Linked DNA regions of Homo sapiens. The protein of the gene in region 1 purifies or fractionates together with the protein of each later gene. This does not show direct contact. Each region holds a gene or a part of one and is shown on either strand. Other genes may lie near its edges.

Region 1 (3,500 bases):
TATCTAGAATACAGTCTTCTTGTGTATTGTGATATTTAACAATTTTTTTAACTTTTAAGTTGAGGGGTACATGTGCAGGTTTGTTATATAGGTAAACTTGTGTCATGGGGGTTTGTTCTACAGATATTTTGTTACTCAGGTATTAAGCCTAGTACTCATTAGTTATTTTTTCTGATCCTCTCCTTCCTCCTACTCTCCACCCTCTGGTAGGCTCCAATGTGTATTGTTCCCCTCTTTGTGTCCATGTGCTCTCATCATTTAGCTCCCACTTACAAGTGAGAACGTGCGGAATTTGCTTTTCTGTTCCTGTGTGAGTTTGCTGAGGATAATGGCCTCCAGCTCCATCCATGTTTCCACAGAGGACATGATCTTCTTTTTTATGGCTGTGTAGTATTCACACGGTATATATGGACCCACATTTTCTTTATCCAGTCTATCATTTGATGGGCATTTAGGTTGATTCCATGTCTTTGCTCTTGTGAACAGTGCTGCAGTGAACATATGCATGCATGTGTCTTATAACACAAGGATTTATATTCCTTTAGGTGTATACCCAGTAGTGGGATTGATGGGTCAAATGGTATTTCTGTTTTTAGGTCTTTGAGGAATTGCCATACTGTCTTCCACAATGGTTGAACTAATTTACACTCCCACCAACAGTGTGTTAAGTGTTCCTTTTTCTCTGCAGCCTCTCCAACATGTATTTTTTTTTGACTTTTTAATAATACGCATTCTGACGCTTGAAATGGTATCTCCTTGTGGTTTTGATTTGCATTTCTCTAATGATCAGTGATGTTGAGCTTTTTTTCATATGATTCTTGGCCACATTTATGTCTTCTTTTGAAAAGTGTTCATCTCCTTTGCACATTTTTTCATGGGGTTGTTTGCTTTTTTCTTGTAAATTTGTTTAAGTTCCTTATATATGCTGGATATTAAACCTTTGTCAGATGCTTCGTTTGCAAAAATTTTCTCCCATTCTGTAGGTTGTCTGTTCACTTTGTTGATAGTTTCCTTTGCTGTGCAGAAGCTCTTTAGTTTAATTAGATCCCATTTGTCAATTTTTGGTTTTGTTGCAATTGCTTTTGGTGCCTTTGTCATGAAATCTTTGCCTGTTCTTATGTCTATAATGGTATTGCATAAGTTGTCTTCCAGGGTTTTTATAGTTTTGGATTTTACATTTAAGTCTTTAATTCATCTGGACTTAATTTTTGTATGTGGTTTAAGGAGGTTGGCGTGGGGTAGGGGTCCAGTTTCAATCTTCTGCATATGGCTAGCTAGTTATCCCAGCACCATTTATTGAATAGGGAATCCTTTCCCCATTGCTTGTTTTTGGTCAGGTTTGGATATTTGACAGTTCTTAATTTCCTGATTTAACTATGCCTAAGTCATTAAACTGTTCTGCTAGATCACTTGTTTGGTGTCTTAAGAACTAATATATAACCTTCTGCTTGGGGATACTATAACAACCAAATATTTCGAATTTTAAATATTTAACAGTATTTCAATCTAGAAATTAATAAATTTCATGCAATAAGTAAATAAACTTGTAGGCATTCTTAAAGTTGCTGACTGAAAGCTTTAAAAAATAAAAATATATATATTTTTGTTTTTAGAGTCAGGATCTTGCTGTGTTGCCCGGGCTGGAGCTCAGTGGCTATCTATAGGCACAGTCATGGCACACGACAGCCTCAAACTCCTGGGCACAAGTGATCCTCCTACCTCAGCCTCCTAAGTAGCTAGGACTACAGGTGCATGCCACCATGCCTGGCTTTTATTTTTTATTTTGTAGAGATAAAAAATTCAAAGTATGTATTAATTGTATAAACATTCACAGCAAGAAGCAAATACAGCTTCTTAATAAAAACCGTGTATAGTTTTTGAGGTTTTAAAACTAGCTCTTGGACAGTGGCCAGTTATGAGTAAGTGAAGGAGAAAGGAGCTTTGCCTGGACTGATTTGGAGGGTTACAGAGAGGTGGCAGGTTAATAATGTACTTTCCTATCATAGGCAAGGGGAATTCTAATGCCACCTGGTTTTAAAGTCAGACCCCCCCCAAAATGTCTGTCACAGGTGATGAGTCCAAATGGAAATTGGCTCCTTTAATACCTCATAAGCAAACCATCTAGGATTATTATAAAGTAGAACAAGGTAAAGCCAGAGAATCTCTAAAACTGAATCTTTTTAGTCAACTGGATTCCTCACAATTTTATATTTGAATTCCTACATGTTGATTCCATAGAGAGATACATCAGATACATTGGGCCTCTGAATTGTGTTAGTGCTCAAACAAGAACATTTTTTTCAGCATACTGTTCATTTAACTTACACTTTTGCAGCCTTTTCCAAAGTAGCTAGATCTGAAATTTTGAAATTTATTTGTTAAGTGAATGTTAACTGTCTATAAACATTCATAGTTATAACACAAGAATAGTGGGGCTTGTTTTCTTCAGACTGGATATATTTATATAGATAAGCTCCTGAATTGGATGAGTTCCAGAAATTCAAATATAAGTTGATGATTTAGAGTTTCAGACTCTTTGTCACAGAGATGATATTTGAAATATTGGTTTTTCAGACTAGCTCACCAAAACCTTCTTATTTTTTTAAATGCACAATATATCTGAACACCCACATCCTGGTACCTGAAGAAGAAATTGGCTGACTAGGTAGAAACTCTCAGGGATTGGGCAGCTGGCTCGGCAGAGATCCCAATGGGACGCCCAAGGCTGTCAGGGCAGGGAAGGATTTTGAATGATGTGGGTGGTATTATCTATTGCAGATGGTATTTTGGCAGCTTGAAAAAATTAAGAATGCCACAGTGAGTATTCAACAACATAGATTACCTTCATGTGAAGGACTGCCTGTTTCATATACTTTTCCCTCTTTCATGTGCTTCATTGTTGAGTTTATGGACCTAATAATTCCTTGTATAGTCTATGAATCTAATACAAATTTTATGAGTATAGAGGCTCTCTTCATTTCCTTGCTCCTTCTAGGATATTTCAGACAAGCCAACAAATTAAATATTATTAGCAAATTCTTAGTTTTTTTAAAAAATTTTATTATGTGTACATAATAGTACATTTATAGGGGTCCATGTGATATTCAGATACAAATGTACAATGTGTAATGATCAAATCAGGATAATTGGGACATCCATCACTTCAAGCATTTATAATTTCTTTGTATTAGGTACATACCAGTTCTGCTTTTCTAGTTATTTTGAAATACACAATAAATTATTGTTAACTATAGTTGTCCTGTTGTGCTTCCAAGCACTAGGTCTTATTCCTTTTATCTGAAGGTATTTTTGTACCCATTAATCAAACCCTCTTTATATCCCCCTTCCCCAGTACCCTTCCCAGCCTCTGGTAACCATCATTCTTCTCTCTGTCTCCATGAGATCAGTTTTGTTTTGTTTTGTTTTTTAAGCTCCCACATAATGAGTGAAAATATGCTATAGTTGTCTTTCTGTGCCTGGCTTATTTCACTTAACATAAT
Region 2 (2,166 bases), on another chromosome or scaffold:
CTACCTCCATCTCCCACCTGTCTGCCCAGCTCTCCCTGAAGGTCCCTTACCAGCCTCGACTGGGAGACAAGTCCACCTTTTCCAGTCTCAGGCTCTTGCACTCACCAGAAGAACCTTTTGTGATTGCAAGGTCTGAAGGGGAAGCCAGGGATAGAGTCCTGCAGGAAGCTAACGGGGGTGGAAGTGGGAAATGGAGTGAGGCTGGGGTGATCTGAGAGGGCTTCCTTCTGGTTTAGATGGGTTCCTGCTTTTGGATGCTGATCTATTACAGTAGGAAGTGGGGTTGAAGGGATGGGAGTGGGCAGGGTGGGGTAACCCTTAATTCCTCAGAAAAAATAGACAACATAGTGGAGTGGGATGGAAAAGGATCTGGTCGGGGGGACTCTAACACATAGTGTCTAATCTGATTGTTCACAGTTAGGTCTATGGGGTCATCACCCCAATTTATATACCCCGCAACTTAGCCTGCTGAGTTGCCTCATTATCTCTCCCCAAATGTTGCCACCCAATGCCACCCGTTATTTCCATCCCTCTCCATCACCATCCCCACAACACCTCCAGAGCTCCCCATCTTTCCATGCCTGGTTCTTCTTCCAATGGGGTCAGTAGTATGTCTCCTTCTCCACCCAGCCTGTTAGAGAGATTGGGAGTGGAGATTGCAGCATGAGCTTAAAAGGAGGCAAGAGATCAATTTCCTAGGGGCTTGGGTCGCTGAAGCCAGGTGGAAGGAGAAGCCTGGTGAAGGGCACTGGGGGAAGTGGCTTAGGAAGGTGGAAGGAGGCTGGGTGCAGTGGCTCATGCCTGTAATCCCAGCATACTGGGAGGCTGAGGCAGGCGGAGATCAAGACTCCTGGCTAACCCAGTGAAACCCTGTCTGTACTAAAAATACAAAAAATTAGTCGGGCATAGTGGCATGCGCCTGCAATCCCAGCTACTCTGGAGGCTGAGGCAAGAGAATTGCTTGAACCCAGGAGGCGGAGCTTGCAGTGAGCCGAGATCGTGCCACTGCACTGCACTCCTGGTTGGGCGACAGAGCGAGACTCCGTCTCAAAAAAAAAAAAAAAAAAAAAAAAAAAAAGAAGGTGAAAGGGAGGAGAAGGAGGTCCAGTGAGCTGGGGCCATAGGTTAAAGGAAGGGAGGGTGAACCTGCCTTTAGGGGAGACTTGTATTTAGCACATTGGAGGCTGGGGCAGAATAGGTCGAGGGTGAAAATGCAAACGCCCACAGGGCCTCTTCAGGTGACGAACGAGAGTCTAAGGGAGCAGCTGTCCATTCTTGCTGTGCAGAGATGTGGACATGGGATTAACAGCTCTTCTGATCTTCAGGAGAAGTCGAATTCAGATTTTATGTGAAAGACCCTAAATTTTCTATATCGGACCAATTAATCCACCCTCCTCCCCCCACACACACAAAATATGGCACAGGTCAAACCAAACAGTATTCCTGGACAGTATTTGGTTTGTAAGCCATCATATTTTAACCTCTACTAAGTGATTAAAAAACGCTTGTAGGAAAAACAATAACTTGTCGGTTGATGAGTGGGGATCAGGAGGCCTGGGTTCTAGTACCAGTCCTGCTATTCTTTGCTTTACGACCCTGAACAGATTCACCTCTGAGCCTCCTCTATCTGTAAAATATGGACGTGGGACTAGGTGACCTGGAAAGGCCCTTCTAATTCTGATGTTCTGTGGTTTCAGGTGGAAGGTGGAGGGCCTCGGAGACCAACTGTGAGTTAGGCGGGGTTTAGAATCTGATGGGAAGAGGGCAGAGACAACAGGTTCGAAAGAGTCAGGGCTCCTGGGACCTGGGACCCCAGGATCTGAGGGTGTTGAGGAACAGAAGCAGGAACCAGTAGTGGGAGTGGAGTCTGCGTGTGGTCCTGGAGGGAGGAGCTGGTGGTGGGGCTTGCACTTTGCTGGGGGGAATGTGGAGGGGCTTACCACCAGGATACCGCCGCAGGATGAGCTTTCGGACCTCATCATAGATGAAGATGAGGAGGCTGTAGGGGAAGGCGCAGAACCACCAGGTGACTCTGAAAGCAATGGAGGAGAGTGTCAGCAGCATCAGAGGTTGGCTTGGTGGCTGTCACATAAAGGAGCATTCAAAGCGATCAGAACTTGGATCCTGGAGGGGGCTGAAGGCCCCCCGTATGACTACTCAGGCCGC
Region 3 (3,500 bases), on another chromosome or scaffold:
ACACACTGCTGGCTGACCGGCAGGACAGCAGCAGTATAGGGTAGAGGTTCAGATTAGGTAGGAGGACAGTAGGGCCAGAGCTTGCATGGGTTGGGGAAAGCACATCCCAGGGGCCCTCTCTGCTACTCACAAGAAGGCCTCCTTCCTGCGGGACTCCTTCAGTGGCTCGTCCTCTTCGGCATCATGGCTGGAAGGTGTATGGGGTTCCGCTCTGGGGAAGAGAGAGAGAAAGTTAGGGCCAGGCTCAGGGAGGTGAATGGGGCTGAGAAGGACCAGACTGGTAGCCTCACCTCCTGTAAGTGTCAGAAGCGGCAGCGTAGTGGAGGGGAGAGCAGCCTTTACAGTCGGCCTCGTTGACACCTGCCCCAGCAGTCACCAATGTTACTGCACACTGGTAGCTACCGTTAGCAGCTGCATAGTGCAGTGGGGTCCTGGGGAAGAAGTGAAGGAGGGTGGGGAAGAGAATCAGAGACAGATACGAATGCAATCAGATGTGCAGCCAAATGCTGCTTTGTAACATTCTCCTTATTTAAGTCTCCAATCTAAACCCTTCCTCCCTCTACCATTTGTTTCTCTAATCAGATATTCCCTATGTTTACCCCTGCATATTAGCATACCTGCCAAATTTGTCCCTCCTCCTCAAGTCAGCTCCACTGCTCAACAGCAAATTAAGACATTCAACATTCCTAAAAGAAAGATGTGTTAAGAGAGTTACAGCCTCAAAGGGAAGCCACAGGCCCAGGGTGGGGCTAAGGAAGGATGGGACTAGCAAGCCCTTTCTGCTGTGACTGCTTTCATTGTGAGAGGGGGAATAGATCTGGGCAGGCAAGAATGAGGGGCCCAGACCTTTGCCCAGCTCCCTGCTCAAAGCATGGGAGAGAGAAAGAGAACTCACCCTCCGGAAGCAGCAGCATGAAGACAGGTACGGCCAAGGTTGTCAGGTGTATTGATGTCAAACCCAGCTGAAAGCACATGCTCATTGCTGAGTGAAGACACAATGCTGTACAACTGACCTGGAGGCACAGAACAGCCACAGGTCACATCTGAGAGTGTTCAGCAGGGAGGGAAAGGCCTTTGCTCTCCTATACACCTGCCAATCCCCAGCCCATCAGCACATACCTGAGGAAAGAAGCTTACGACAACAGTCAGAGAATCCAAAGAGAACAGCTAAGTGCAGGGGGAACATGTCATGGATGCCACGCCTAGAGAGAAGTTGAGGGACTCAGTCCTTGGGTCAAGGAGGGACCAAGTAAGACCTCTTCTGTGACCTACCACCACCCTAGAGTCAGGGTAGGAGGTTCTCCAAGGTGCCCTTTGGCAAGCTTATCTGTGCCTCCATGGTTGATGTGAGCAGTCTGTGCAGATCTGGGCAGCCCAGAAGTGGAGTCGGGGCCCTGACTCACCGGGCGGTATCTGCGCCATTGGTCATGAGGGTGCTGATGAGCAGCTCGTGTCCATATCGAGCAGCCACATGCAGTGGCGTGTTCCCAAATTTGTCGGCACAATCAATCTCGCTGCCTGTGAGGGGATGCACACACACAAGCTCAGGCAGACCTCAGGCTTAAGACCACTTTCGCGAGCTAGCCATGATTTGAGTGCCTACTATGTATGCATCAGGTGCCAGGCCCAGGATTCTACATATTTTATCCTGTTTCTAGGCCTTAGGAGACTGGGCAGGGCAGAGCAGGGCCATTTCCACAGGTCCCTTGGTCAGAGTTCCAAGGGCCTATCCTACTGGAAGAGGGCAGGAGAAGGAAGTTAGGAACCTCCCTAGATTCTAGAAATGAGTTCCTTGGGGGAGGAGGGGATGAGAGCACAAAGTCTCCCAGGTCCATACCATTCTGGATGAGGATCTGGGAGCGTGTGAAACGGCCATGGATTGCAGCCATGTGCAGAGGACTTTTCCCTTCTTTGCTCTGTGGAAACATGGTGGGTTTTTGTTTTTGTTTTTTTTTCCAGTGCAAAGCACAGAGAATGCCCTACCTCCCTTCCAAGGACATATCTCTAAGGACAAAAGGGTCATATGGCACCTTCTTAGCCCACTCTTTCCTGAGTCCCTGGCAAGGTCTGATTACCCTAGGAAGCAAGTGGATAATTCCCCAAGAGAGCTATCCAGATACAGTCAGGACCCCTAGATCCAAGTTTCGCTCCCCACTGGTCTAAGCCTTATCCCTTCAGGCACCTGGTAGTTGACGTCAGCCCCATTATTAACCAGTAGCTCCAAGCAGAGAGCGCCATTGGTGGAGACTGCAGCCACATGCAGTGGCGTGAAGCCCTTGTCATTCGGCTGGTTGACATTGGCTCCGGCATTCACCAGCTCAATAGCCACAGCATCCTGGCCCAGGTAGCAGGCGATGTGCAAAGCTGTGTTTCCAAAAGCATTGGGTTCATCGATCTGGATATTCAGGGGTGAGAGTAAGGTGGTATCAGTTTAAACAAAGTAGAAGCCAGCACATGTAGCCTCCAGATCCCAGAAATCCAACGACTGCCTCATTTCCTCTCGGGTTTATGACCCAAGGTACTAAGGTACTAAGGGCACTATGGCTAAGGTAAGCATTATTCAGACCCTCTCTACCACGTCCTTCCAACTTCCCAAAACTATACCAACATCCCAATACCTCATATCTCCGTAACAGACTATAATCTCCTACTTGCTGCCCATAGTTCCCAACCCCAGAGCTCAAAGCCCTGACCTCCGCTCCCATCCGAAGCAGGTACTTCACCACTTCAATCTGGCCACTGGCAGCAGCTGTATGGAGCAGCCCATAGCCCTTGCGGTCCTTGCAGCCGAGGTCTGCTCCCCGTGCCACCAGCAGTTTTAGGACCTCCAAGTGCCCTGAGAAAAGAGAAGACACTCTAAAGGAAGTAGAAGGTAAACTCTAAGACCCTACACTCCTCTCTTCAAAGGCTGCAACCCCACATCCCTGCCCTAGGAATCCTAAATGTCAAATTTCTGATTTTCCCGTGTATTCTCTCTCACCTAGAAAAGCTGCCCAATGCAGAGGCTGCCGCTCCTTTTTGTCACAGACATTCAGGCTGGCTCCCTTGTTGAGGAGCAGGTTCACCGTCTGCATCAGGATATGAAAGACACCTGTTCAGAGCTAGATTCGTGCCCTCAACCTACCTAAGAGCAGAGGCCTCATCTCCTGAAAAGGCTGAGGCAGCCTAATGCCTTTTTCCATGAGCAAAACAACCTGGAGGACTCGAGGGAACAGCAGAAGCAGGCACTAAGGAGGAGATACTGGAGAGATTTGGAACTTTAAGGGAAACAAGAGAGTCTCTTCAGGTGATCTGGTGGTTCTTAAACTCTTTTTTTTTTTTTTTTTGAGACAGTCTCGCTCTGTTACCCAGGCTGGAGTTCAGTGGCATGATTTCGGCTCATTGCAAGCTCCGCCTCCCGGGTTCACGCCATTCTCCTGCCTCAGTCTCCCGAGTAGCTGGGACTACAGGCGGCCGCCACCACACCCGGCTAATTTTTTGTATTTTTAGTAGAGACAGGG
Region 4 (3,500 bases), on another chromosome or scaffold:
CAATGGCGCGATCTCGGCTCACCACAACCTCTGCCTCCTGGGTTCAAGCGGTTCTCCTGCCTCAGCCTCCCGAGCAGCTGGAATTACAGGCATGTGACACCACACCAAGCTAATTTTGTATTTTTAGGAGAGATGGGGTTTCTCCATGTTGGTCAGGCTGGTCTCGACCTCCCAACCTCAGGTGATCCACCCGCCTCGGCTTCCCAAAGTGCTGGGATTACAGGTGTGAGCCACCATGCCCAGCAAGTCTGCCAGTTTTAATGGTGAGGCTTACAAAAGTGGCTCAACCAAAGCTGTAAAAAAAAATTACTGGAAAAATAACCAGCCTAAGTGTTGTCGTGAGGACGAAATGAGCTCGTGTGTAAAGGGCCTAGAACGGTGCCCGGTCCATGCTAAGTGCTCTGTTGGCCATTATGATTCCCACATCACACATGGAGGGAGTACAGTCCGGGGGAAGGACTTGTCTGACGAAGCCTGACAACACACTGCCCACTCCACATGCTCCGGTCCTGGCCCCAACGCCACCCCAGTTCCTAAGGCTGTGACCCTCTCCTGCCTTGTCCATAAATGGGGATACACAACTCCCAAGGTTCAGGTGAAATGAAGAGCTCAACACTCAAATGATCCCAGTGCTGTGGGTCAGGCATGACCTGCAGGACAGGGGCAGGCCTGGGGAATTTGCAGATGTATCTCGAGTACTTTCCGCCAGCTCCCTCCAACTGTGGAAAGTAGGAAGAGAGAGCTCAGAAAACTCCTCAACCATCCTTTCTCGAATTATCCAAACCTGGCCCCTCTGCACACACACTGCTGTGACTTCATGGAACCCTCGAGAGCGGCCCCAACAGCCAAGGACCAGAAGCCAGTCTAGGCCTGGTGGGGGCACCTCTCAGTGACCCTGCATGACCATGGGGACAGAGGCAGACCTGCAAGGCCAAGCCAGTGGCAGGAGGGCAACAGCAATGTTCCCCAGAGGCTGCTGAGGCTCTGAAGGACACAGGCCTTACACACAGCACTCCTCTGCACAATCTCTCTGCATACCTGCCTGCAAGACTGTCCACGCCAGAATGGACTACTGCCCAAAGAAGCCATCCTTACTGTGACCACATCAGCATTACCTTCCTCCTCCTCCTCCTCCTCAGCCCTGTCACCGATGACACCTACCACTGTCAGAGCCAGAGTGAAGCAGAAACACCACTGGCCTGGGAGATGGAAGACATGGATTCTGTTCTCAGCTCTGCTGTGCCCTAACCGTGGAACCTGAGGCCAGCCCCTTACCCACGCCTGCCCCAGCCTCATCAAAGGTGACCTCTGAGGCCCCACTGTCCACCAGGCACACACAGGGAGACTGGCCTCAGGTGCAGTTGGCCTCAGGAAAGCCCCAGCTCTGGAGCCTCCCAACCTCCCAGTCCCGAGATGAGTGACATGGCCAACTGCCCCACCCCAAGTCTGGAGAGGCCGGTGGGAGAAGCCTGTGACCCTCCCTGGCCCGCCCACCTCCACACCCTCGCACCTTCCACACGGGCCTCATCAGGGGTGATGGTGGCACACTTGACAGCCACACTGTACTTCTGGGTGGCCAGTGCAGAGTCAATGGTGACCTGGTCATCAGTCTGGTCACGGTTTGGGAGCCCGAGGTCAAAATACTTTAGCTGGATGTCCACGTGGGGCAGGATGAGCTGGGGACAGAGGGCCAGAGCAAGGCGTCACCCCAGTGACTCAGGGACATGACAACAAAGGGCAGGATAAGAAGTCTGCAGGCCATGGCAGGGGACAGTCAGTCAAAACAGGGATGAGTGAAGGCCAGTGGAGGGGCGCAGCAGAAAGCTGGAGTCAGCCATTTCTCAGTGGGGCCTGGCCAGAGCTGGCAGAGGCTGGGGCTTTGGAGAGAGGTTGGCAGGCCAGGCCGCAGTCTTTTGGAGGGTTCTTCCTCCACTGTGCCTGTGTGCCCCCCTCACATGGCCCATCAACTCAGCCAAACCCCAACCCCAAGTACATCTAGATTTCTCTATACAACTGGTTTCCTCTTCTCAAGTGCTTTGAGATCTTACAGTTGGAAGTGACAGTTCTCAACCTTTGTCCCATGAACGCACACACAGTGTGGGGCCTTCACAAGGACTACATGCTCTCCTGGACATACATAGACCACGGCAACTTTGGAGAAGCCAAGCGGCCACTCTGGGACCCCTTTGCCATGGTGGCTCGTCACAACTGCAGGCTGGGTCACTGCCCTACACACCAGCCCTGTTCCCTTTTCACTCCTTTTCAAGAAGTGAGGCAAAACGTAGGGGATCAAGATGGAAATGATACAGGATTAACCTTGAAGCTTCTCAAAGTTGACAGAACGTGTGGGATCTGGCACCATCACAACACGGACTGCTGGGGACAGGCCCCCGCCTGACGACTTCTGAACAATTAGTGGACCAGATGTGAAAGAAGGGTAGACAGAGGGAGAGAAACAGAGCTGCTGCTGCCTACCAGGACAACGGGGGGGTCCTAGGGACCTGCAGTCCAGAAGACCCTGTGGGACAGAACAATCCCTGGCCAGCCCACCTGGAGAGCCACCCACTTCAGGAGGGGGCACTACCTTCTCCTTGATGAACTGCCAGATAATACGGGTCATCTCATCACCATCCATCTCCACCACGGGCTTCGCCACCTTGATCCTTTTGTCGGCATCTAGAAGCAGGGACACACAGCGCATCATGCCCCTGGGGAGGCTGGAGGGGGGCCCTCTCCTCCCAGCCAGGCCCGCCCTTCACCAGGAGACAGTGGCAGAAAGCCAGGGCTCCAGCTGCCCGGTGTCCACTCCCCCGTCTGCAAATCAGCTCCCTCACTGCTTAGAGCAGGGGTCCCCAACTCCCAGGCCATGGACTAGTACCGTGGGCTCTGGAGAGAGGTCAGCAGACCAGGCCACAGCCTTTAGTGCAGGTCCACGGACTGTTGGGAACTGGGCCACACAGCAGGAGGAGAGCTGCAGGTGAGTGAGCACTACTACCACCTGAGCTCATGCCTGGGAACTGCGCACACGAGGGATCTAGGTTGCATACTCCTTATGAGAATCTAATGCCTGATGATCTGTCACTGTCTTCCAGCACCTCCAGATGGGACTGTCTAGTTGCAGGAAAGCAAGCTCAGGACCCCCCGATTGTACATTATGGTGAGCTATATAATTTTTTCATTATATATTACAATGTAATAATAATAGAAATAAAGTGCACAATAAATGTAATGCACTTGACTCATCCCAAAACCATCCCCGCTGCCCACCACCCTGCCACCCGTGGAAAAATTGTCTTCCATGAAACTGGCCCCTGGTGCCAAAAACTTTGGGAACTGCTGGTTTAGAGCACCTGGATCCATCCATCCTTACTTACTTCCTTTCCTTTCTTTCCTTCCTTTCCTTTCTTTCCTTCCTTCCTTCCTTTCGTTCCTTCCTCCCTTTCTCTCTCTCTTTCTTGGCAGGGTCCTGTTCCATTGGTCAGGCTGGAATGCACTGATGC

Evidence for each region. The genes of interacting proteins can lie anywhere in the genome.
Region 2: the proteins of ZNRF2 (region 1) and ATP1A2 purify together in Homo sapiens (affinity purification with western blotting; one study listed by BioGRID). This does not show direct contact.
Region 3: the proteins of ZNRF2 (region 1) and ANKRD52 purify together in Homo sapiens (affinity purification with mass spectrometry; one large-scale study listed by BioGRID and IntAct). This does not show direct contact.
Region 4: the proteins of ZNRF2 (region 1) and IDH2 purify together in Homo sapiens (affinity purification with mass spectrometry, with the first as the bait; one large-scale study listed by BioGRID). This does not show direct contact.

Annotation. Positions count from the first base shown.
Region 1 is NC_000007.14:30,326,097-30,329,596, forward strand, and holds part of ZNRF2 (E3 ubiquitin-protein ligase ZNRF2), read left to right. Parts: intron 1-3,500. UniProt on the Homo sapiens protein: E3 ubiquitin-protein ligase that plays a role in the establishment and maintenance of neuronal transmission and plasticity. Ubiquitinates the Na(+)/K(+) ATPase alpha-1 subunit/ATP1A1 and thereby influences its endocytosis and/or degradation.
Region 2 is NC_000001.11:160,139,759-160,141,924, reverse strand, and holds part of ATP1A2 (sodium/potassium-transporting ATPase subunit alpha-2 precursor), read right to left. Parts: intron 2,033-2,166; coding exon 1,941-2,032; intron 632-1,940; coding exon 603-631; 3' UTR 1-602. UniProt on the Homo sapiens protein: This is the catalytic component of the active enzyme, which catalyzes the hydrolysis of ATP coupled with the exchange of sodium and potassium ions across the plasma membrane.
Region 3 is NC_000012.12:56,251,885-56,255,384, forward strand, and holds part of ANKRD52 (serine/threonine-protein phosphatase 6 regulatory ankyrin repeat subunit C), read right to left. Parts: intron 3,069-3,500; coding exon 2,981-3,068; intron 2,837-2,980; coding exon 2,694-2,836; intron 2,396-2,693; coding exon 2,183-2,395; intron 1,917-2,182; coding exon 1,838-1,916; intron 1,519-1,837; coding exon 1,404-1,518; intron 1,203-1,403; coding exon 1,120-1,202; intron 1,014-1,119; coding exon 896-1,013; intron 687-895; coding exon 618-686; intron 432-617; coding exon 291-431; intron 212-290; coding exon 131-211; intron 1-130. UniProt on the Homo sapiens protein: Putative regulatory subunit of protein phosphatase 6 (PP6) that may be involved in the recognition of phosphoprotein substrates.
Region 4 is NC_000015.10:90,088,969-90,092,468, forward strand, and holds part of IDH2 (isocitrate dehydrogenase [NADP], mitochondrial isoform 1 precursor), read right to left. Parts: intron 2,677-3,500; coding exon 2,585-2,676; intron 1,677-2,584; coding exon 1,511-1,676; intron 1-1,510. UniProt on the Homo sapiens protein: Plays a role in intermediary metabolism and energy production. It may tightly associate or interact with the pyruvate dehydrogenase complex.